Linked DNA regions of Homo sapiens. The protein of the gene in region 3 interacts with the protein of the main gene of each other region in a biochemical or structural test. Each region holds a gene or a part of one and is shown on either strand. Other genes may lie near its edges. The genes, in order: PCBD1, SRPK2 and ACIN1.

Evidence for each region.
Region 1: the proteins of ACIN1 (region 3) and PCBD1 form a complex in vitro, tested with the Homo sapiens proteins (one study listed by BioGRID).
Region 2: of the proteins of ACIN1 (region 3) and SRPK2, one has a biochemical effect on the other in vitro, tested with the Homo sapiens proteins (one study listed by BioGRID).

Annotation. Positions count from the first base shown.
Region 1 is NC_000010.11:70,885,524-70,893,567, reverse strand, and holds the start of PCBD1 (pterin-4-alpha-carbinolamine dehydratase), read left to right. Parts: upstream 1-5,002; 5' UTR 5,003-5,034; coding exon 5,035-5,037; intron 5,038-5,686; exon of another isoform or gene 5,687-5,715; intron 5,716-7,638; coding exon 7,639-7,770; intron 7,771-8,044. UniProt on the Homo sapiens protein: Involved in tetrahydrobiopterin biosynthesis. Seems to both prevent the formation of 7-pterins and accelerate the formation of quinonoid-BH2. Coactivator for HNF1A-dependent transcription.
Region 2 is NC_000007.14:105,385,846-105,393,009, reverse strand, and holds the start of SRPK2 (SRSF protein kinase 2), read left to right. Parts: upstream 1-4,088; 5' UTR 4,089-4,203; coding exon 4,204-4,219; intron 4,220-4,307; coding exon 4,308-4,362; intron 4,363-7,164. UniProt on the Homo sapiens protein: Serine/arginine-rich protein-specific kinase which specifically phosphorylates its substrates at serine residues located in regions rich in arginine/serine dipeptides, known as RS domains and is involved in the phosphorylation of SR splicing factors and the regulation of splicing.
Region 3 is NC_000014.9:23,078,055-23,085,159, reverse strand, and holds part of ACIN1 (apoptotic chromatin condensation inducer in the nucleus), read left to right. Parts: intron 1-2,945; exon of another isoform or gene 2,946-3,323; coding exon 3,324-3,412; exon of another isoform or gene 3,413-4,350; coding exon 4,351-5,613; exon of another isoform or gene 5,614-5,700; intron 5,701-6,121; coding exon 6,122-6,340; intron 6,341-6,462; exon of another isoform or gene 6,463-6,893; coding exon 6,894-7,009; intron 7,010-7,105.

The DNA.
Region 1 (8,044 bases), on a different chromosome or scaffold from region 3:
TGGGCGCTTTTCCCACAGCAAAAACAGCCCCTTCAGCCCCCACACTACTGAGTGGGTCCCTCTCCTTCCCTCATCCTTCCCCACTCCCTCACCGGATGAGCACTCTGAGAGCATGCACAGAGAGGAAGCAGTTAGTGTGTGCAAACTCTCACCTTGTCTGGGCCCCCTGCTGTCTCAGACCGACACGCCAGCCCACACCTGGCTTCCAACAATTTGTTAAAACTGAACTGATTTCTTTCTTCTTACCCACTTTAATGGAGGCTGCCCCTTCCTCCAAGCACTGCCCAAGTGAGCCAGACTGCACATCCTGCCTCTCCTTGGAGGGACCTGCCCCCTTGGAATTCAGGATACTTGGTTGCCCTGTGAGCTCACCTCCCTGGTGAGCTCAAGAAAAGTGATGACTTTGTAGTGCATGCAGTCTTTTCTCATTGTTAAGTATGATAGCAAGGCTTTCTGCCTCCTGGATGGAAGGTGAATACTTCTTGCTGTCCTTAAGTCTTTCCTTCCACCGTCTCTCACCACCCATTCTCAACCTAACGCTACACATTTTAGGTTGCTTTTATAGCAACATTCCACTTTCAGGCACCAAATTTTGTTCCTGCCATTTGTTCCTATTGCTGCAGAACAAATCATCATGCTGAGTGGCTTAAAACAAAAATTATGATTTCTCATGCTTCCACGGGTTGACTGGTCTCACTTGGGGCCTCACGTGGGATTGAAGTCAGATGTCTCCTGGGGCTGAAGTCATCTGAAGGTTTGGCAGGTCTGAGCATCCAAGAGTCTCACTCACGTGGCTGGAGAATGATTAACAGTTCCCAGAGTTTCTTTGGCTTAGTCTTAGAAGTTATAGCTGGATGTGGTGGCTCACACCTGGAATCCCACACTTGGGAGGCCAAGGCCCAACATTTGAGCCCAAGAATTTGAGACCAGCCTGGCAACATAGAAATGTCCTGTCTCTGTAAAAAATTTAAAACATTATCCAGGCATGGTGACTACCTGGGGGAGCTGAGGCAGGAGGATCACTTGAGCCCAGGAGGTCAAGGCTGCAATGAGCTATGATTGCACCACTGCACTCCAGCCTGGGCGACAGAGCAAGACACTGTATCAAAACAAAGTCACATGGTGACATTTCTGCCATATTTGACTGGTCATACTGGGCCATCCCAGATTCAACATGGGTGAGAACTATGCAGGGTGTGAATATTGGGAGTCATGGTTCATTGGGGGCTATCTTTGGAGACTAACATCCTGCCTAACACTACATACCAAAAGGGACCTTTCACATTTAGGTCTTAAATCTATCTAACTATAAAGTTAACAAAAGAAAAGGGAGTATATTTTTGTAGCAGGGTGGGGAGAGGACTTATCAAATAAATTTTCAAATGCACAAAATTATAAGGCAGAGGGAAAAAAGATAAATCTTATTACACCAAAATATAAGATTTCTGCCCACAGACATCATGGATCTCATGCAAGAAGTCAGTATACAGATGGCAGAATGAGAGGAGATATTTGCAATATCAAAACTGACAAGCAATTAATGTCTAGATTTTATATAAACACCCACAAACCAACTAAAAAAAGAGAGCACTAAAAATTCTCAAAAATTGGCAAAGGATATTAAAAAGCAATTCACAAATAGTAACCCCCAAATGGTAACAAGCATATGAAGAGGTTCTCAAAATCATTAGTCATCAGAAAACAATGTAGAGTAAAACAATTGAAAGCGGCAGGAGGCAGACAATTTCCTAGGCAGATGGGGGTGGGTCCCCAGTGAAACCCCACCTTCAAGCCAAAAACAGCCTGGACTGCTGGTTTGGGATGAAACCCCTCAAACCAGGGTGAGAACTTCTGTTCCTGTTTGCCCACCCTTTCCTGATTGGTTCTTTCTGAATAATGCTTTTTAACCAATCAAATGTTGCCTTTTCTAATACTACCTACAGCCCGCCCCTCCCCAATCCTGTGCCTATAAAACCCCCTAGACTCAGCCACACTGAGATAGACAACCCCACCTTCTCAATCCCTCTCCACTGAGAGCTGTTTCATCGTCAATAAAATTCTCCATCCTCATCACCCTTCAACTGTCAGCATGACCTCATTCTTCTTGGATGCAGAACAAGAGCTCAGGACCCACCAAATGTGGGCACCCACAAAGGCTGTAACGCTGGCCCTCTACCCTCACTGGTGGAGGGCAGCTGCCCCACAGAACAGAAGCTGCAGCAGGGCCAAGCTGGTCCAGGAGCCACGGGCCAGAGTGGAGAAAGGGGCCGCCTGAGCTGCCAACATGCCGCTGTCCATCAGGCTGCAGATGGTGGAGATAAAAGAGCTATTTAGCACACTGTAACACCCCTCTCTGGGGCTTCAGGCACCCCTGCCTGGGTGCTGCCACAGTCTCCTTGGGGTGACACACCTGATCTGGCTGTGGGCCCCACACAGAGCCTGTTCCTGTGTCATGGCTCAGTGCAGCTGGCTGGACCCTGCATTCACTCGGTCACATGCTCCCTCCCGCCAGGGGCTGAGCATACAGTCGCAGTGGCCTTGTGAGCCATGGGCTGTAACACAAGCCAGATGGGGCCTGGCAAGCTGAGTAGATAAGGCACTCCCTGCTGCAACCTCAGCAAAGGGGTCAAGAAAAATCCTGCATCACAACAAGCTCTCATTTTATAGCTATTAGCCTGACAAAAAAATAAAAAGCTGGCTAATGGGAAGTGTGAGTATGTATGTGTAAGATGCATATGGAAATAGTACCCCCTCACACCATGCAGGAGAGAATGAGGACTGGTGTCCCCATCCTGGACATCATCTAGAACTATTTTGAGATACACACCCATGGGGGGAATTGCTGGATTTATAGGGTATGGATATACTTAAGTTGCCTAAGAAACTGCCCACAGCCCAGGGAGCAATTAGAGATGTTCACTGCAGCAGCATTGTTGTTTAACTCTGTGTACGTATGTGTTTGTGTGCCCACATGCTCACGGGCTTGGGAGGTGGTGGTAGCAGCAGAAAGTTGAAGGGAACCTGAGTGTCCATCACTGATAGAACAAGAAACCCATGGCAGATTCTCATTACAAAATACTAGGCTGCAGTTAAAAGCTACAGATTGAATATACATATAGCAACATGGGTAGATCTTAATTTTCCACTAAATACTCTGTTTTGTAAGAAACAGACTGAGAAATGTAATATATTTACATAATACCATTTACATAAATTTAAAAATACACATAGACGAAACAACACCACACATTTTGCAAGAACCTGTGCAAACAAAAATACACATTAACACATTAGAGAGGCTGCTATGGGCGGTGGTGGGGGGCGGGGAATAAAAGTGGAGCACAAGAATAAAAGTTAATAGAAAAATGTGAAATGTGAGAGGACTTTTCTAATCTGACTCTAAGACTTATTATAAAGCTATAATAATCAAGACAAGGTAGTGTTCTGTCATGACAGACAAACAGATCAATGGAACAGAAGAAAGGGCTCAGAAATAAACCCACATGTATACAGTCAATTGATATTTTACAAAGGTGCAAAGACAACTCAGTGGAGAAAGGAATAACTGAGTCGCCATGTGCAAAAGTGCATCTGGATCTATAACTTGAAGCATATAAAAATATTTACTCAAAGTGGATCACAGACTAAATGTAAAACCAAAAGCTATAAAACATAGGAGAAAACTTTTGATCTTGGGTTAGGCCAAGATTTCTATGTGTACAACATCAAAATAGAAATCCATAAAAGAAACATTTGATATATTGGATTTCATCAAAATTAAGAACGTTTGCTCTTTGAAAGGCACCATAAGATAATGCAAAGAAAATATTTGCAAATCACTGCCTGATCATGTCCTTATATCCAGAATAAAACACCCTCAAAACTCGATAAGAAGACAACCCAATTTCTTTTTTAATGGGCAGGAAATTCAAACATGCTATTCAATAAAAAAAACTTATCCTTAGCAAATAAGTACATGAAAAGACATTCAATACAATTACTAATCAAGGAAACTCAAAACCACAATGAGATACTGCTACACACCAATTAAAATTTAAAAGGCTGACTATATCAAGTGTTGGTGAGGACAGAGAACTGCAACCTTCATACACTGCTGCTAGGAATATAAAATGATACAACCATTTTGCAAAACAGTATGGCAGTTTCCTAATAAGTTATAAAAGTCCACCTACCACATGACCCAGGCATTCCATTCCTAAGTGTTTACTCAAGGAAAATTAAAACATACGTACTTTCGAAGATTTGTGCACCATATTCGCAGCAGCTTTATTTGTAATAGCCAAAAGGTAAACAACGCAAATGTCCAATAGTGAATCGCTAAACAAATTGTAGTCTATCTGTACAATGCAATACTATAAAATAAATTTTACTTAGCCATAAAAGGAAGAAACCATTGATATAGGCAACAACATGGCTGAACCCCAAAACAGTTATCCTGCCTAGTATATACTCTATGGTCCATTTACATAAAATTCTAGAAAATGCAAACTAATTTATAGTGACCTAAAGTACATCAGTGCTTGCCTGGCCAGGTGGTTTCGGGAGGAAGGGGTTACCAAAGGGCAAGGGAAAACTTGCAGGGATGATGATATGTTCATAATGTTGATCTCGGTGATGGTCTCACGAGGGAAACATTAAAATTTATCAAATTGTACACGTTGAATATGTGCAATTTATTGCATGTCAATTATATCCAAATAAGAGATTTTTATAAAGAAAAAAATAGGTATTCTGGCGCCCAGGGCCACCCAGCTGTAAGCGGCGGGGTGGGATTCCAACCCAGAAGCGGGCATTTGGAGCCCTCATGCTTCACCCTAGCTCCCTGAAACAAGCACGGAGGATGGCTCTGAGCAGCGAGGAAAGTGCTGGAAGCAAGCAGGCCGAGCGCGTCCCTGGCTGGGGACGTTAATCATTACCGGAGGGCGGCCCGAGCGCGGCCCCGCCCCGGGACGGCAGCCTGCGCGCCCGGCCGCCGCCTGCCCTCTCCGCTGGCCACCTGCTGCCGCCCGCGCCATGGTGAGTCCAGGGGTGCGCGGCCGCGATCGGGGCAGCGGGGCCGGGGCAGCCGCGGGCGAGGTGGGAGCGGGAAGGGGCGGGGGAAAGTCTTTTCGAGTCCCCTGCGGAGCCGCCGGGGTCCGAAAGTGGGGTCTCTGCCCGGCTCTCTGTCGCTGGCGGCGGGGAGGGGAAGCTGAAGCCCTGAGAGGGGCGGTGGCGGGTTCGAATCCCACCCAGTTGGGAGGCCAGGCCTGCCCTGACCCCGGCCAGTGCTTGTTCCGGGACCCTTCCGGGGGCGGGGCCTACGACCTTCCTGGGCCGGGGAAGACAGTCGTGGAGGAGTCCACGGATCTCGTCCCCTTGGTGGCCCGATTCTGCTTTATACTGGGGTGGGAGCGAGAGGGAGGCTGAGTTTGCGCGCTCGTGTGCGTGCCTGTCCGCTGCCCCTTCCCGCTGGCACTCTGGGTACGGGGTCTGCCTGGGACTCACGCTCTGCGCCGGTATGCTGGCCCCAGAGCCACTCCCCGCGCCGGCTTGAGGCCCGTGCCAGGCCACGGGGGCTTGGTGGCGCTGGAGCAGCCCTCCTCCCGTGAGCTTCCCCCACCCACCCCCGGGGCGGGGGCGGGGGCGGGGCCCTTGCTCTGCTGTAAGCTCGCGAGCTTCATCAGACCATTTCTGGTCCACAGGCCTTCGGAGCAGGCAAGACTGGGAGGGCCTTTTGATAGGAGAGGGACTTGGGGGAGGGAGGATGAGTGGGGCTGTTTGTGAGGGGCGCTGAGGTCCCAGAGATGCAGGCTTGGGAAATCGGTAACCACTCCCCACACCTCGCCAGAGGAGGCAAACGGGGCAGCGTCCCCCTCTCTGTCTCCAGAGCCGGCACCTGGAAGGTTTGTCAGTTCAGCCGCAGGCTGTGCGACCTGGGGGGTTCCAGAAGGCTCTACCGAGAAAGGGAAGCCTCCTAAGAGCTCACCTGGACTCACCCACCCCTTTAAGAGCCAAGGAAGTAAACAGTGGGCTCTGATGCTTTGGCTGACTTCTGGTTGTCTAGATACACGGACCAGGCGGTCAGCCACGGGGAGAAGGCCAGCTCTGGAGTAGAGACCTACCTACTGGGCAGATGATGCAAATCGCTGCTGCCATTCAATCCCTATAGTCATCCAGAGCCGAGGGGAAGAGAGGGGCCAAGCTACATCAGTCCAGAGAGAGCTCACGTTTTCAGGAGGGAAAACAGCAGGGAAAAAAGACGGACTTAGGAAAGCACTGCGATGCTTCAGCTACCCCAAATGCTACCAGGCCCATCACAAGCCTGCTTGCCTTAGGAAGTTTTTTTTTTGTAATGCAGATGACATTTGCTTTATAGCAGTGGAGTTTCCTAAAGTGTCCCATTGGCACCTCATGATGATCTGTGGAGGTGGAGGTTCTGCCAAGAGAGGTACAGCCACCTGGCTGGTAAATGGTGAAAGCGGGTCTCAAAACTCCTGCCAATCAACACATGGTGTCCAGTCTGCAGGCTGCCTCATAAAAGCTAAATCAACCTCCCTCACATTCCCTCCCCACCCCTAAGGGTATCTTTTCAATTCAGCACTCTATTTCTGCCCTGGGGTGGTGCTACTCTAGAAGCCTAGGTTCTGGGATCTGTTAAGCTCCTAGACCTGGATCCTCCTAGGATGAAACTGACCCTTGCTTCCTTGCTTTCTCTGAGGTTCCACTCATGGCCTGAATTGTGCCAATTTGGGCTGCCTTGAGGGCACTTCGCACATTAGGTAAATAGGATGGGGCACTAGGTTTGCCAGCTGCCTTTGGCCAAGTTCCTTCCACTTTGGCCTGAGCTTCCCAACCAGCCAGAAAAGCAGACGGAAAACCAGAGAAACCTAGCCCTGGCGGCTCAGGACCAGAGGCTGCCTGGGAGCATGACTGAGGACCTACTAGAGGTAGTGCCAACGGCGGTCAGCTGCAGTGTGGCTAAGAATGGGATGGACACTTATTTTAAATGTAGCTCCTTCGTCCAGCCCCAGCAATGCTGACACACAGACAACACTGCGCCATCACTGGCTAGGGGTGGGCGGGAAAGAACAGCAGACAAGTCGTTTCCCCTCTCTAGGCCTGTTTCCTCTTCAATACACGTGAAAGTTACGGTAGGGACGTGGGGTGCATATGATGAAGTACATAATAGGAAAAGGAAGGGGGGAGAGTCATGGGTACTCTTCCTGAGAGGTTGTGGAGTAACATATTTGCATCTGGGATTTATTTTGCTTTTACGCCCTCACTGATGTAATAATCTCATGGAGGGAAGGTCCGTAAGGCTTTGAGGGCAGGGTGGGGGAAGAGTGCTTCTCTGTCCCCGTCATATGAATTACATTGCTTTTGTGATTTCCCTTGTGTGTGTGTGGAGTGTTAAAACCCAAGACCTGAGGGCCTATCGGCAGACGAGCCTGGACCCCACCTCCTGGGCAGGGTGCCACCCTTGAGGCCTCCCAGCCTATTGCTCAAAGACCTGCTGCCCTTTGGTCACCCACGTCCAAAGCAGCCAGTGGAAGCTAAGTTCCCCTAAAGGTTGGAGCCCCTCTGTTTTGACCTATAAAGAGAAATGCCCTTGGGCCTCTGTTTTTTTCCCTCTTCTAGGCTGGCAAAGCACACAGGCTGAGCGCTGAGGAGAGGGACCAGCTGCTGCCAAACCTGAGGGCTGTGGGGTGGAATGAGCTGGAAGGCCGTGATGCCATCTTCAAGCAGTTTCATTTCAAAGACTTCAACAGGGTATGGCACCAGGGTGGGACAGAGTTTTCTGAGACGGGCTGATGGGGTCACCTTACAAAGCATGTTCTCTCCCTTCACGTCTTGTTAGCCAAGACTCTCAGACACCACACTCATCCAGTTATTTGGGCACTGTGCCAGTGGGGAAATTAATTTTCCTGTCTAACTCAGAAAGTATCATCTTTGGGGATTGGAGAGCCATAGGAGGATGTGTCTTGGGCTCTCCCTTCCTGGAACTTTTAGCAGCAGTCTTCTGAGGAGATAGTTCAAGTGGAAA
Region 2 (7,164 bases), on a different chromosome or scaffold from region 3:
CTCTCCACCAAAAAAAAAAAAATACAAAAATTAGCCGGGTGTGGTGGTACATGCCTGTAGTCCCAGCTACTTGGGAGGCTGAGGGAGGAGAATTGTTTGAACCTGGGAGGCGGAGGTTGCAATGAGCGGAGATCACACCACTGCACTCCAGCCTGGGCGACGGAGCAAGACCCTCTCTCAAAAAAAAAAAAGAAAAAAAGAATATCACTTAAGTCTGGGTATAGTGGTTCACACCTGTAATCCCAGCACTTAGGGAGGCAGAGGCAGGTGGATCACTTGAGGCCAAGAGTTTCAGACCAGCCTGGCCAACATGGTGAAAACCCGTGTCTACTAAAAATACAAATGGTGTGCGTCTGTAGTCCCAGCTACTTGGGAGGCTGAGGTGGGAAAATCACTTGAACCTGGGAAGTGGAGGTTACAGTGAGCTGAGATCACACCATTGCACTCCAGCCTCGGCAACAGAGCAAGATGCCCATCTCAAAAATGATAGGATTATAAAATCACTGTTCTACAACCAGTGTGGTAATAGTTGATTTAGGCAAGAATCATCAATGGATGCCAACCCATTGAGATATTGTCAGGGAAGAGATATTCACACAGTTTCAAAGTATCACCCCACACAAGTAACTTTGTTGTTTTGTTTTGAAGTGAAATTCACATTAAATGAAAGAAACCACTTTAAAGAGAACAATTCAGTGGCTTTTAGTCTATTAGCAATGTTGTGCCACCACCACCTCTATCTAGCACCAAAACATCTTCATCACACCAAAATAAAACTTGGTACCCATTAAGCAGTTGCTCCCTCCTTCTCCCACCCCCCAACTCCTGGCAACCACCAATCTGCTTTCTGTAGATTTGCCTATTCTGGATATCTCATATAAATGGAATCATACAATATGTGACATTTTGTGTCTGGCTGCTTTTATTTAGCATAATGTTTTTGATGTTCATCCACATTGTAGCATGTGTCAGTACTAAATTCTTTTTATGGCCAAAAAAATATTCCAGTGTATGTATATACCGCAATTTGTTTATCCATTCATTTATGGATGACCATTTAGGTTTTTTCCACCTTTTGGCTGTGATAGCGCTGCTATGAACACTCATGTACAAAGATTTGTTTGAGTATCTGTTTTCAGTCCTTGTGCATATATACCTAGGAGTGGAATTGCTGTTAATTCTATAATTAGCTTTCTGAGAAGCCAACAGACTGTTTCCATAATAACTGCACCATTTTACATTCCCACCAGAAATGTAGGAGGGTTTCAATGTTTCCAACATATGAGGGTTCCAAAATCCCCACCAACACTTTTTTTCCATTAACATTTTTTTTTTGAGATGGGGTCTCACTCTGTTGCCCAGGCTGGAGTGCAGTGGTGCGATCATAGTTCACTGCAGCCGCCAACTCCTGGACTCAGATGATCCTCCAGCCTCAGCCTCCAAAATGCTGAGATTACACTTGTGAGACATCACGTTTGGCCTTATTTTCCATTACAAAAATTTTTAGCCGGGCGCAGTGGCTCATGCCTGTAATCCCAGCACTTTGGGAAGCCAAGGAAGGTGGATCACCTGAGGTTGGGAGTTCGATACCATCCTGACCAACATGGAGAAACCCCAGATCTACTAAAAATACAAAATTAGCCAGGCGTGGTAGCACATGCCTGTAATCCCAGCTACTCGGAGGGTTGAGGCAGGAGAATCACTTGAACCTGGGAGGCAGAGGTTGCGAAGAGCTGAGATCGTGCCATTGCACTCCAGCCTGGGCAACAAGAGCGAAATTCCATCTCAATAAATAAATAAATAAATAAATAAATAAATAAATAAATTTTATAGTCATCCTAGTAGGTGTGAAGTAGTAGCTCATTATAGTTTTGCTTTGTATTTTCCTAACAACTAATGATGTTAATTCTCTTGTCACATGCTAGTTTGGTCATTTGCATGTCTTTGGAGAAATGTCCATTCAAATCCTTTGCTCATTTTTCATACAGACTTCTTAAATACAGAGGGAAAAGGTACCTGTATCTTGGAGAAATAATTAACTGTAACATCACCAGTAATGGAACAAACTGACATCATATTTTGATGCACTAAGATGAATACAACATCATCTATAGTATAGCCAACAAAATTGTTTAACTTGAATCTAATCATAGGGAAACAGACAAATCCAAAACAGGGAACATTCTGCAAAATGGTGGAACTGGATTCTTCAAAAAAGTCAATGTTATAAACAACAAAACAAAACAAAACAAAAAAAGGCTGGGTGCCGAGGCTCAGGCCTGTAATCCTAGCACTTTGGGAGGTTGAGGTGGGTGGATGACCCGAGGTCAGGAGTTCGAGACCAGCCTGGCCAATAGGGTGAAACCCTGTCTCTACTAAAAAAAAAAAAAAAAAAAAAAAAACAAAAACAAAAATTAACTAGATGTGGTGGTGTATGCCTGTAATCCCAGCTACTCGGGAGACTGAGGCAGGAGAATGGCTTGGACCCGGGAGGCTGAGGTTGCAGTGAGCTGAGATTGCGCCACTGCACTCCAGCCTGGGTGATAGAGTGAGACTCCATTTCAAAATAAATAAATAAATAGAAAGAAAACCAAAACACAAAACCAAGAATGATTCTAGACTAAAGGTGTTTAAAAAGACATGACAATTAAATGCAACGGATGATCCTTAATGGTAGACTAATTGGGAAAAAAAGAAAATCAGCGACAAGGGATATTACTGGGATATTTTGCAAAATTGAATATATATGGCCTGTATGTTACAGATGATTACATTGTATTAGTATGAAAGTTTCTTGGAGTGATCATGGAATTCTGATTATGTGGGAGATTATCTTTATTCTTAGTAGATATGTACTGAAATATTTAGGGATAAAGGGTAACAGTGTCTACAAAAACTCAAGTGATTCAGCAAAATAAACCATACACACAGACACATAGATAGCAAATGTGGCAGAATGTTAAAAATTGGTGAATATGGGTTAATTTGGCTGTTAATTGTATTTTCCTTGTAACTTTTCTATAGGGTTTGATATTTTTTTGAATATAAAAAGTTAAGGACTCTTCAAAATCCAAGCAGAGTTTCCCGTTCTGATTTATCATCCTTAGTGTAAGCCACCTTGTCAAAGATACAGTTGTGTGACCAATGAGGGAGTTAATAGTCAGAATGCGTATCTTTCAAAAACTATTGTAATTATTTACATAAATAAGAGAACATTGCAGTTATCTTTTTGTGTCACTATCAACTTGATTCACATCTTTTGTAGGCAGCCTGATAAGGTGGTTTGTCGACGGCCAGGCCTGAATTTCGATCCTGGCTGGTTAAACTTTTTAACCTCGTTGGGACTCAGTTTCCTCATTGTAGGATGCAGAAAATAACTACTTGGTGTGATTGTTGTTTTGAATTGTTATACACCTGGTGTTTACGGAAGCGAGTTTCAATTCATGTGCAAAACCTTTGTCCTACCTTGAATGCTATCTGTATCTTTTCCTTCATTAAACTCATGCAATCCTGGAGGGCACTTAGAGGTGGGAGAGAAAATGACTTCTCCAAGGTCACACCGCTAATCGCGGACCCAGGTTTCCCAGCTTTTGGTCGTGTGCCCTTTCCACGCCTGCCGGAGAGGAGGAAGCGGCGCTCATGGGGTTGCAAGGATGTAGAGGAGCAAAGGGAGAGAAGAGGCCGCGGGAAGAGAGGTGGTGCGAGACCCGCGGAGGCGCCGGCCAAGGACGGGCGCATGGAGCAGCGGGCGGCGCGACCGGCCGGGGTGCGGAGGGGAGAGGCCGCGGCGGGGAGGGAGGGTCCCGCGGGTCCGGTGCCCGGGAGAGGCGGGCGGCCTGGGCCAGCCGCAGGATCGCAGGAGGCGGAGGCCCGGGCCGCGGGCTGGGGTGGGGGAGGCCGAGGGCCAGCGCGGCCATGGGCGGCGGCCACTTCTGCACAGGTGGGTGGGGCGGGGGCGCGGGGCGCTGGGCGCGCGGCGCTGGGGTCCCGACCCCCGGGGCCGGCGGGTGGGGGCGGGGCGGGGGCGGGGCCGGACGGGGGCGGGTCTTGCTGGGTCCCTGCTGGAGCGGCGGCGGCGGCGGCGGCGCAGGCGCGGTTCTCGTCTCCTCCCGGCCGGCGGAGCGAGTGGAGGCTGCAGCCCAGCTCGTCTCGGCGCCCGCGTCGCCGTCGCGAAGCCCCCCGCCCCGCTTCCGCCGCGTCGGAATGAGCTCCCGGAAAGGTGAGTGGCCCGCGGCGCGCCCTCTCCCCGCCACGCGGCCAGCCCGGGCGGGCGGCCCGACCGTTAATGTGTGTCTTCTCTTCCCCAGTGCTGGCCATTCAGGCCCGAAAGCGGAGGCCGAAAAGAGAGAAACATCCGAAAAAGTGAGTCCACGCTGCGCCTGTCCCCGTTCCCCACCCCCGCCCCGTCGGGGGCGCCCGCGGCCGCGCAGGGGAAAGTTGTCCGGGTCCCCGGGCCGGCGGGCGGGCTGGTCCCCCGGGACGCTGGCGCTCGGCTCCTGCCCCCGGCGGGCGGCCCGGGGGGAGGGGCGGCGGCGGGGGAGGGGCGCGCGGGCCGCGGCCGGTTCCCTAGCATCACGGAGCCTCGACCCCGCGACCTCCCGCCCCGGGTCGCCACCGGCCGGCGGGCGGGAGGCCGGCGGAAAGGCGCCGGGCAGGGCGTGCGCACCCGTCCCTTGCCCGCGAGCTGGCCCGGGGGTCGCGGCCCTTTCCGGAAGGGGCCCCGGCGTCTGCCGCTGGGCTCCGGCCCGCCCGCTGCGGGAGTGCAGCGGCTGCGTTGCTCCCACCTGAGCCGCGGGCCGAGGAGGCGGAGGGGCCGAGTGTGCGGGAGGGCGTGTGTCTCGCCTCCCCTTCCTCCCCGGCCCCCGCCTGTCGGCCTTTCTGCTGAGAACCTAAGCTGGTTGTCAAGTGGTTTGCCTCGGGCGTGTTCCTGGCGCGAGTTCAGCCCCGAGACCTGTGCGTTTCGGCTCTCGGGTTTGGATTCGAAACTTTCCGCTCGGGTTGAGCGTGACTTGGGTGCGCTGCGGGCGCCGGGGTCGCGGGCTGCGCAGGGCGGTGGGCGTGTGCGCGGGAGCCGGTCGGAGTGGAAAACGCGCCCGTGGCGGCCACCTCCAGCCTGGCCGCTCACCCGAGCAGGGGGGCCGCTGCCCAAGAACCCTTTCCTGGAGAGCTGCTCCGAGACCGCACAGCGCCGCCGCGTCTTCTCCTTTTCCACTCCTCTCTCCTAATTTTTTTGATTTACCAGCGTTCGACATCGTTATCTCTTCCTCTAGATTAATTGCTTCGCTCTTTTGAGCAAGAATACTCTGTGTGGCATCTTTGGTACTGTGGGGAACGAGAATCCAGCATTATCTTTAATAAAATCCAGAAACATTTTTGGTTGTTTCCTTTGAGGGGTACGTCGCAGCACGCTCACTTTTTTCCCCTTCTCGTTGGCCTTGGTCCTTCAGTTTCACAAAATGTGGATAGTGACTTAAAAATACCTTAAAAAAAAAAAAAAAAGAAAAAACCATTAGAGTAAGGGGAAAGCACTTCCTAAAGAGTTGAAGAACTAATTGGTCGGTAAAAATTGGATATTGAATTCATAAGATGTTAAAATGGACTGGATTTTTGGTAGTTTTGGTTGCTTTTAAAAAAATTAGTGCTAGCTTTCAAGTGAATTACAACCTTAAATTTGAGATTTCCTTTGGTGAACCATGGAAGTTTACCCAGTGGTAAGGAGAACTGTAATGTTTAGGATTCTGAATAAGTACTGTGTTTTAATCACAGCTCTTAATTCAAAGCATTGATTTAATTCCACGTAGTCTGTTATACTCAGAAACATAAAAACAAGTGGAAAAAGTATGACCCCAGTGTCGGAGATGGCTATGTGTGCATGTATATACAAATAGACACGTATATGTGCATGTTACCTTTACGTACATGTGGAAAAACAGTTCTAATTAAGTCAATATGTGTCTTGTATTTGCATATATTAGAGTATGATTTTCCTAATGGTCGAGGGCCTTTTTGGTGGGCCGCAGTTTGGATTTATGTGGTATGTTGATGAAGACTTAGTGAATAGCCACAGTACTCAGCTTTTCCTCTCACAGATTAATCTGCCAGTTTCTCCCACTGTGTATTGTGTATATGTGATAGAATTTGAGGGGGAAAATAACACACCAGCTAATGATGAAACGAACTGGCTCTAGTCTGTAAGGTAACGGGACCAGCCCAATTATATAACTGATTGAGGCATTGCCATTTTTCACTTAACTCTTTGAATCAAGTCATAATTTTATTTAATAATTTTTTTGAGGCAGAGTTTCGCTCTTGTCGCTCAGGCTGGAGTGCAATGGCCCAATCTTGGCTCACTGCAACCTCCGCCTCCCAGGTTCAAGGGATTCTCCTGCCTCAGCCTCCTGAGTAGCTGGGATTACAGGCACCCGCCACCAAGCCTAGCTATTTTTTTTGTATTTTTTAGTAGAGACGGGGTTTCACCATGTTGGCCGGGCTGGTCTACAACTCCTGACTTCAGGTGATTCACCGGCCTCGGCCTCCCACACAGCTGGGATTACAGGTGTGAGCCACCGTGCCCGACCTGAATCAAGATATTATTTAAAAGAACTGTTTGATGTTATTTATTTATTCATGTCTTCAATAGGTATTTACATGTCTGTCTTCGGAGATGGTGTTAGAGGTTGTTTTTTTTTTTTTTTTGAGACCGAGTCTTGCTCTGTTGCCCAGGCTGGAGGGCAGTGGCGCGATCTCGGCTCACTGCAAGCTCCGCCTCCCGAATTCACGCCATTCTCCTGCCTCAGCCTCCTGAGTAGCTGGGACTACAGGCGCCCGCCACCACGCCCGGCTAATATTTTGTATTTTTAGTAGAGGTGGGGTTTCACCGTGTTAGCCAGGATGGTGTCGATCTCCTGACCTCGTGATTCGCCCGCCTCGGCCTCCTAAAGTGCTGGGATTACAGGCGTGAGCCACCAAGCCCGGCCGGTGATAGAGTTTTGAACAAGACAAAGCTCCTTGCAAAGCTAACCTTGGGAGGTTTGGGGAAAACCACAAAGAGGGTGACAAGATAATTTCAGATAGGGCTAAGGGATAGGAAGAAAATGAAGATGGGACATGTTAAGTAATAATAATAGATGACATTTGAACACTGTGCCAGTCACTCTGTCGATT
Region 3 (7,105 bases):
ACGGGGTTTCACCATGGTCTTAATCTCCTGACCTCGTGATCGCCCACCTCGGCCTCCCAAAGTGCTGGGATTACAGGCGTGAGCCACTGCGCCCAGCGTTGACTTTAACACATTTATCTCTGACCAACCTTGCACTTGCCTTTTTTTTTTGGTGTGTGTGAGATAAATCAGCTTCTTTCACTGATACTTGTGAAGGAACTTTGCCTAACATTTATGAAAACTTTTTATTTTGGTTTTACTTATTTTATAACTTAGCCTATTTCAGATCACTGAATTATGAAATGAGTATTTCATTTCACTGCACTACTGTCTTACAGATGTCTTCAAATGTTTGCTAAAGAGTCTGGCCTTTCACTATATATTCTAATCATATATCCTGTATGAACAACCATAACACAAATCTTTCTTCACTTACCCAGATACGAAATGGTATATACTCAGAGGTCCTTTTAATCAAATGATCATGAAGTAAAGTTTTACAAAATATGTGTAGTCTTCTAATTGATTTCATTAGTTTCATTTTGGGTTTTTTTTTTTTTTTTTCTTTTTTGAGATGGAGTCTCGCTCTGTCGCCCAGGCTGGAGTGCAATAGCGCCATCTCGGCTCACTACAACCTCTGCCTCCCAGGTTCAAGCGATTCTTCTGCCTCAGCCCCCTGAGTAGCTGGGACTGCAGGCGTACGCCACCACGCCCAGCTAAAATTTTTTTTGTATTTTTAGTAGAGATGAGGTTTTACCTAATTGGCCAGGCTAATCTCAAACTCCCGACCTCGTGATCTGCCCGCCTCGGCCTCTCAATGTGCTGAGATTACAGGCATGAGCCACCGTGCCCAGCCTCATTTTGATTTTTTAATTATTATTACAGAAGCATTCGCCTAGTTCATTTTAGATTGTAAGGATATAGAAATAGAGAAGGCCGGGCATGGTGGCTTACACCTGTAATCCCAGCACTTTGGGAGGCCAAGGAGGGGGAGGATGACAAGGTCAGGAGTTCGAGACCAGCCTGGCCAACGTGGCAAAACCCCGTCTCTACTAAAAATACAAAAGTTAACCAGGCGTGGTGGCGGGCGCCTGTAGTCCCAGTTACTCAGGAGGCTGAGGCAGGAGAATCACTTGAACCCAGGAGGCGGAGGTTGCAGTGAACCGAAATCGTGCCATTGCACTCCAGCCTGGGCAACGAGCAAGACTCTCTCTCAGAAAAAAAAAAAAATAAGAGAGAAGATCTTGGGTTAGAGCTGCATACCATCTGCTTTATTTGCACTATTACTATACAACATGGTTTTGTGTACAGAACCTTTTGTACTGTATTAACATTGAGTCCAATCTAGCTGATCAAGTATCTGGAATATAATTATCTTCCTGCTATTTTCTAAACTGGTTCTCATTGATGTTAGTATTGCTACTGTACATAGTTGATCTTTTTTGTTTTTTTGAGACGGAGTCTCGCTCTGTCGCCCAGGCTGGAGTGCAGTGGCGCGATCTCGACTCACTGCAAGCTCCGCCTCCCAGGTTCACGCCATTCTGCCTCAGCCTCCTGAGTAGCTGGGACTACAGGCACCTGCCGCCACGCCTGGCTAATTTTTTGTATTTTTAGTAGAGACAGGGTTTCACCATGTTAGCCAGGATGGTCTCGATCTCCTGACGTCGTGATCCGCCTGCCTCGACCTCTCAAAGTGCTAGGATTACAGGCGTGAGCCACCGTGCCCGGCCGCCTAGTTGATCTTAATTCTGGTAGGAAATTTGGAAATCATCTAGTGCAGCCCCTCCTTTTTCTCAATCATGACATTTGAGACTCGGGCACAGTGGTTTATACCTTAATCTCAGCACTTTGGGAGGACCGGGGTGGGAGGATTACTTGAGCCCTGGAGGCTGAGGCTGCAGTGAGCCATGATCATGCCACTGCACTCCAGCCTGGGTGACAGAGTAAAACACTGTCTAAAAAGAAAGATATTGAGACCCAAATTACTTAAGTGATTTACCCAGTTACCTTCCTTCATGGAATTTGAGTGAAACTTTCTTTCCGTTTTACATGGATTTATTGTTCAGGATAACCTAGATTGGTGGTTTCCAAGCTTTTTAATAGAACTTTTTTTTTCCTTAAAAAAAAAAAAAATCTCACCTAGTCCGGGTGCGGTGACTCACGCCTGTAATTCCAGCACTTTGGGAGGCCAAGGCGGGGGGATTGCTTGAGCCCAGGAGTTCGAACCAGCCTAGGCAACATGATGAAACCCCGCCTCTGTAAAAAATACCGAAATTAGCCAGGTATGGTGGCGTGCGCCTGCAGTCCCAGCTGCCCGGTAGGCTGAAGCAGGAGAATCGCTTGAACCTGGGAGGCGGAGGTTGTGGTGAGCCTAGATCATGCCATTGCACTCCATCCTGGGCAACAAGAGCAAAACTCTGTCTCAAAAAAAAAAAAAGAAAAACATGTGAGCTCATGCCTGTAATCCCAGCACTTTGGGAGGCCAAGGCGGGCAGATCACTTGAGGTCAGGAGTTTGAGACCAGCCTGTCCAACAGGATGAAACCCCATATCTACTAAAAATACAAAAATTAGCCAGGCATGGTGGTGGGCACCTGTAATCCCAGCTACTCAGGAGGCTGAGGCATGAGACTGGTTTGAAGCCAGGGGGCAGAGGTCGCAGTGAGGCGAGATTGCACCACTGCATCCAGCCTGGGTGACAGAGTGAGACTCCATCTCAGAAAAAAAAAAAAAAAAAAAAAAAATATTGAGCTCTAATACATAAAACCTAATAGACAGGACCCAATTCTGAAACCCCATCCAGTTGGCTTGAAGTAATTTCAGGAACTTTAGGGCGCTGAAAAACATTCCTCTAAGTATTTATTTCTTGAGTTTGTTATTGTGCAAATTCATATATTTCATCATAATATTTTGGTTGAAATTAGAAAGTAGTAGTAATAGGCAATCCAAAAAAATGGATACAGAACATAATGAAGTCTTAAACTTTATTCAGAGTAAGAACACTTTGTAGAAATAAGTACACTTCATATTTGTACATCCCTGCTAGACAGTTTGAAGCCCCTGGAAATTATTTTACATTTATTTGAGTTATTTATAACATGTGAATTGGCTTCGAGGTGTTGAAAATATTCTAGACTTGCACACCAAGAATTACCAATAAGACCCTGACCTAGTTAGGGCTTTTTGTAGTCTTTTCTTTAGTGTAGAAGTCAAAGAAACCGATACAGATATGTCTTGATAGGCTCATATGCTATAATTGGTTGGATATTAGAAAGCCTGATTTTTAAAAAGCCATGAATGAGTCTTCACTTCATGAATCTGACTTGATTCTTTTTCATTCAATAGGAAAAAGCTCCTCAATTTCTGAAGAGAAAGGTGACTCTGATGATGAGAAACCAAGGAAAGGAGAAAGACGATCATCTAGGGTCAGACAGGTAACTCAGATACCTCCTAAAGCATTACCTCTTCAGTAATGCTTTGGATATCTTCTCTTCTTCAGACTTGTTTTGAGTTTGTATGTCTCTACATTTAGGGGTTTTGTTTTTCTTTTTTGGGACAGAGTCTGGCTCTGTCGCCTAGGCTGGAGTGCAGTGGCACAATCACAGCTTACTACAGCCTCGACCTCCTAGGCTTAAGCAGTCCTTCCACCTCAGCCTCCCAAAGGATTGGGATTACAGGCATGAGCCACTGCCTGGCCTCTAGATTTCTTTGTGGTTATCTTCCTTCTCCTCTTTGTCATCTTTTTGTTGTTCGTTTTGTCTTTTTATTTAGATCTGCTCTGCCTTTTAGATTTCTAAGTGAATATTTTTTAAAAGTTTAAATTTGAAAATTAGCAGGCTGCTCTGTATTCTTAAAGCACATTATTAGACAAGATATGACATAATTAACCATTCAATCAAAGCTTTAAAGTTATATAACACTAAGTGGGCAGAATACAAAAATGTTATGTGTAGTGTAATTATGACTGTACAAAGGAAATGATTAGAGGAAAGAACAAAAAGAAATATACCAAAATGATAAAAAGATAATCGTATTAATTGATAGTAGGTTAGTTCCTTTCAGCCCCCTATCCACCCTTTTACTTTCCAGATGTTCTGCTAATATTTTACTGAAAAAAAAAAAAAGGGGGTGCTTGAAGCTAAAATTTAAACTACATACAAGTAGCTTCATTGTGATATTTCTTTTGGTCACTTTGTTTTGATTCCCCTAAGGGCTACGTTAGTCATGATTGTCTCCTGTCACTCCTGTTTCTGTTGCTGAAAGTATATATCATTGAATTTCTCCTTCCTAGGGGTGTCTTCATTAGATACTTTCTCTCCTCTGTTGACTGTGAGCAAATACATTTGGAGCCATTGTGTATCTGTTCTTTCAGGCAAGAGCAGCTAAACTGTCTGAGGGCAGCCAACCTGCTGAGGAGGAAGAGGATCAAGAAACACCTTCCAGAAACCTAAGGGTCAGAGCAGATCGAAATTTGAAAACAGAGGAGGAAGAAGAGGAGGAGGAGGAGGAGGAAGAAGATGATGAAGAAGAGGAAGGTGATGATGAGGGACAAAAATCTAGGGAGGCACCAATCCTGAAAGAGTTTAAGGAAGAAGGGGAAGAGATACCTAGAGTAAAACCAGAGGAGATGATGGATGAGAGACCCAAAACAAGATCCCAGGAACAGGAGGTGTTAGAGAGAGGAGGGAGATTTACAAGATCCCAGGAAGAGGCTAGAAAAAGTCATCTGGCCAGACAGCAGCAGGAGAAGGAAATGAAAACAACATCTCCCCTTGAGGAGGAAGAAAGAGAAATAAAATCTTCACAAGGCTTAAAGGAAAAATCGAAGTCTCCTTCCCCTCCTCGACTGACTGAAGATCGAAAGAAGGCCTCACTTGTAGCGCTGCCAGAGCAAACTGCCAGCGAGGAGGAGACTCCTCCACCTTTACTAACAAAGGAAGCATCTTCTCCACCACCTCATCCACAGCTCCATAGCGAAGAAGAAATAGAGCCCATGGAAGGCCCAGCCCCCGCTGTCCTCATTCAGTTATCTCCTCCTAATACAGATGCTGACACCAGGGAGCTATTAGTATCTCAGCATACTGTCCAGTTGGTAGGAGGCCTGTCTCCTTTGTCAAGTCCTTCAGACACCAAAGCAGAATCTCCAGCAGAGAAAGTGCCAGAGGAGAGTGTCCTGCCTCTGGTTCAGAAAAGCACACTGGCTGACTACTCAGCCCAGAAGGATCTTGAACCTGAGTCAGACAGATCTGCTCAGCCCCTCCCTCTAAAAATTGAGGAATTAGCACTGGCCAAAGGAATCACTGAAGAATGTCTGAAACAGCCATCTTTGGAACAGAAGGAAGGCAGAAGAGCTTCTCATACCCTTCTCCCAAGCCACAGATTGAAACAGTCAGCTGATTCATCCTCTAGCCGGTCCTCCTCATCTTCCTCCTCCAGTTCTAGATCAAGATCTCGCTCTCCTGACAGTTCAGGTTCTCGGTCTCATTCACCGCTCAGATCCAAGCAGAGAGATGTAGCCCAGGCACGTACTCATGCCAACCCTCGTGGTAGACCCAAGATGGGCTCCAGATCAACATCAGAGTCCAGATCAAGGTCACGTTCACGTTCTCGTTCAGCATCAAGCAACAGCAGAAAAGTGAGTATGAGAGAATCCCGGGTGTATTAATGTTCTGTCATATTCCAGTGGTTTTCATTTCAGCCCCTGGAGAGCCTGTCATGATTTCTGAAAGGAATAGGAAAAGCCTCCTTTACTCTCCTTCACTGATTACTTTCTCCTCATTTCAGAATCGTATTTTCAATTAACTGATTCCCGAAATGGGGTTCTTTTTCATTTTGAGTCCCTTGATAGAATGTTGAATTTATGTACTCATCTCCTCCACTAGATGGAAACTTCTTGAGGATGTGGGCATGCCCTTTTACGTGTGTGTCCCAGGATCTAGCATCTAGTTAAAACTTAATAATTTGTTAAATAAGTGGTCAAGGAGACCACTAAATGGGAATAAACACAGACAAAATGGGAGTAAACACAGACAAAAAGGTCCAGAGTATAAAATTTGGTCCATGGAAACTGGAAAACTCAGCAATCTACTGAATATATACCATATACAATAATTTTCCTTGTTATGTGTTTCATTTTGTTTTAGTCTCTGAGCCCTGGAGTCTCCAGGGACAGCAGCACCAGCTATACTGAAACCAAAGATCCCTCTTCTGGTCAGGAGGTTGCAACTCCACCAGTGCCACAACTGCAGGTCTGTGAGCCAAAGGAGAGGACTTCCACCTCCTCATCCTCTGTCCAAGCAAGGCGTCTGAGTCAGCCTGAATCAGCTGAAAAGCATGTGACCCAGAGGTTACAGCCTGAGCGGGTAGGCTATTGTGACCCCTCCCTACACAGAGATGGAGGATTAAGCAAGATCTTCCCTCTTGTCTTTGCTATAAAACTAAAAAGTTAAGTCTGGACAAGGTTCAGTAGAAATGTGGTGGATACCTGTTAATCCTGCTTAACTCATTTCCAGCTCCCTGGTTCGTAGAAGTTCTACATGAGGCTGAGCAGCAGGGTTATCTCCAGGGCCCCCAGGGTCAATTCTTCCTCATAACTCCTCCTTTTATCTGCCAAAAGGAAGTCAGCCTTTTCTCAGTTCTCTCAAAAAAGAATTCTGTCAGAACAAGGATCACTGAGGAAAAGGAAAAAAATTAAAAATTCTGATAAAATGATTACTGGCATAAATATTCTTGAAGTACCTATTTTTAAGCCATGTTCCTTTCCTTATTCTAAAATGAAATAACAGATACAGAGGGCCGTGTGTGGAGCTGGTACTGTGTATGTCCTGCCCTGCCTTTTTCAGGCTCCAGGTAGAAGAAAAGGAACCAAGCAGATCTAAATGTTTTGCTCTGTTCGTTTTTGCTATCTCCTGACAGGGGAGCCCAAAGAAGTGTGAAGCTGAAGAGGCAGAGCCACCAGCTGCCACACAGCCCCAAACCTCAGAGACTCAGACCTCTCATCTGCCAGAATCAGAAAGAATTCATCACACTGTGTAAGTGATATATCTCGACCGGGGTATAACAGGGAACTATGAGTGTGCGATAGTTCTTCGCTCCCTAGGGTTCTTTGACTAAGCAGTCCTAGTTTC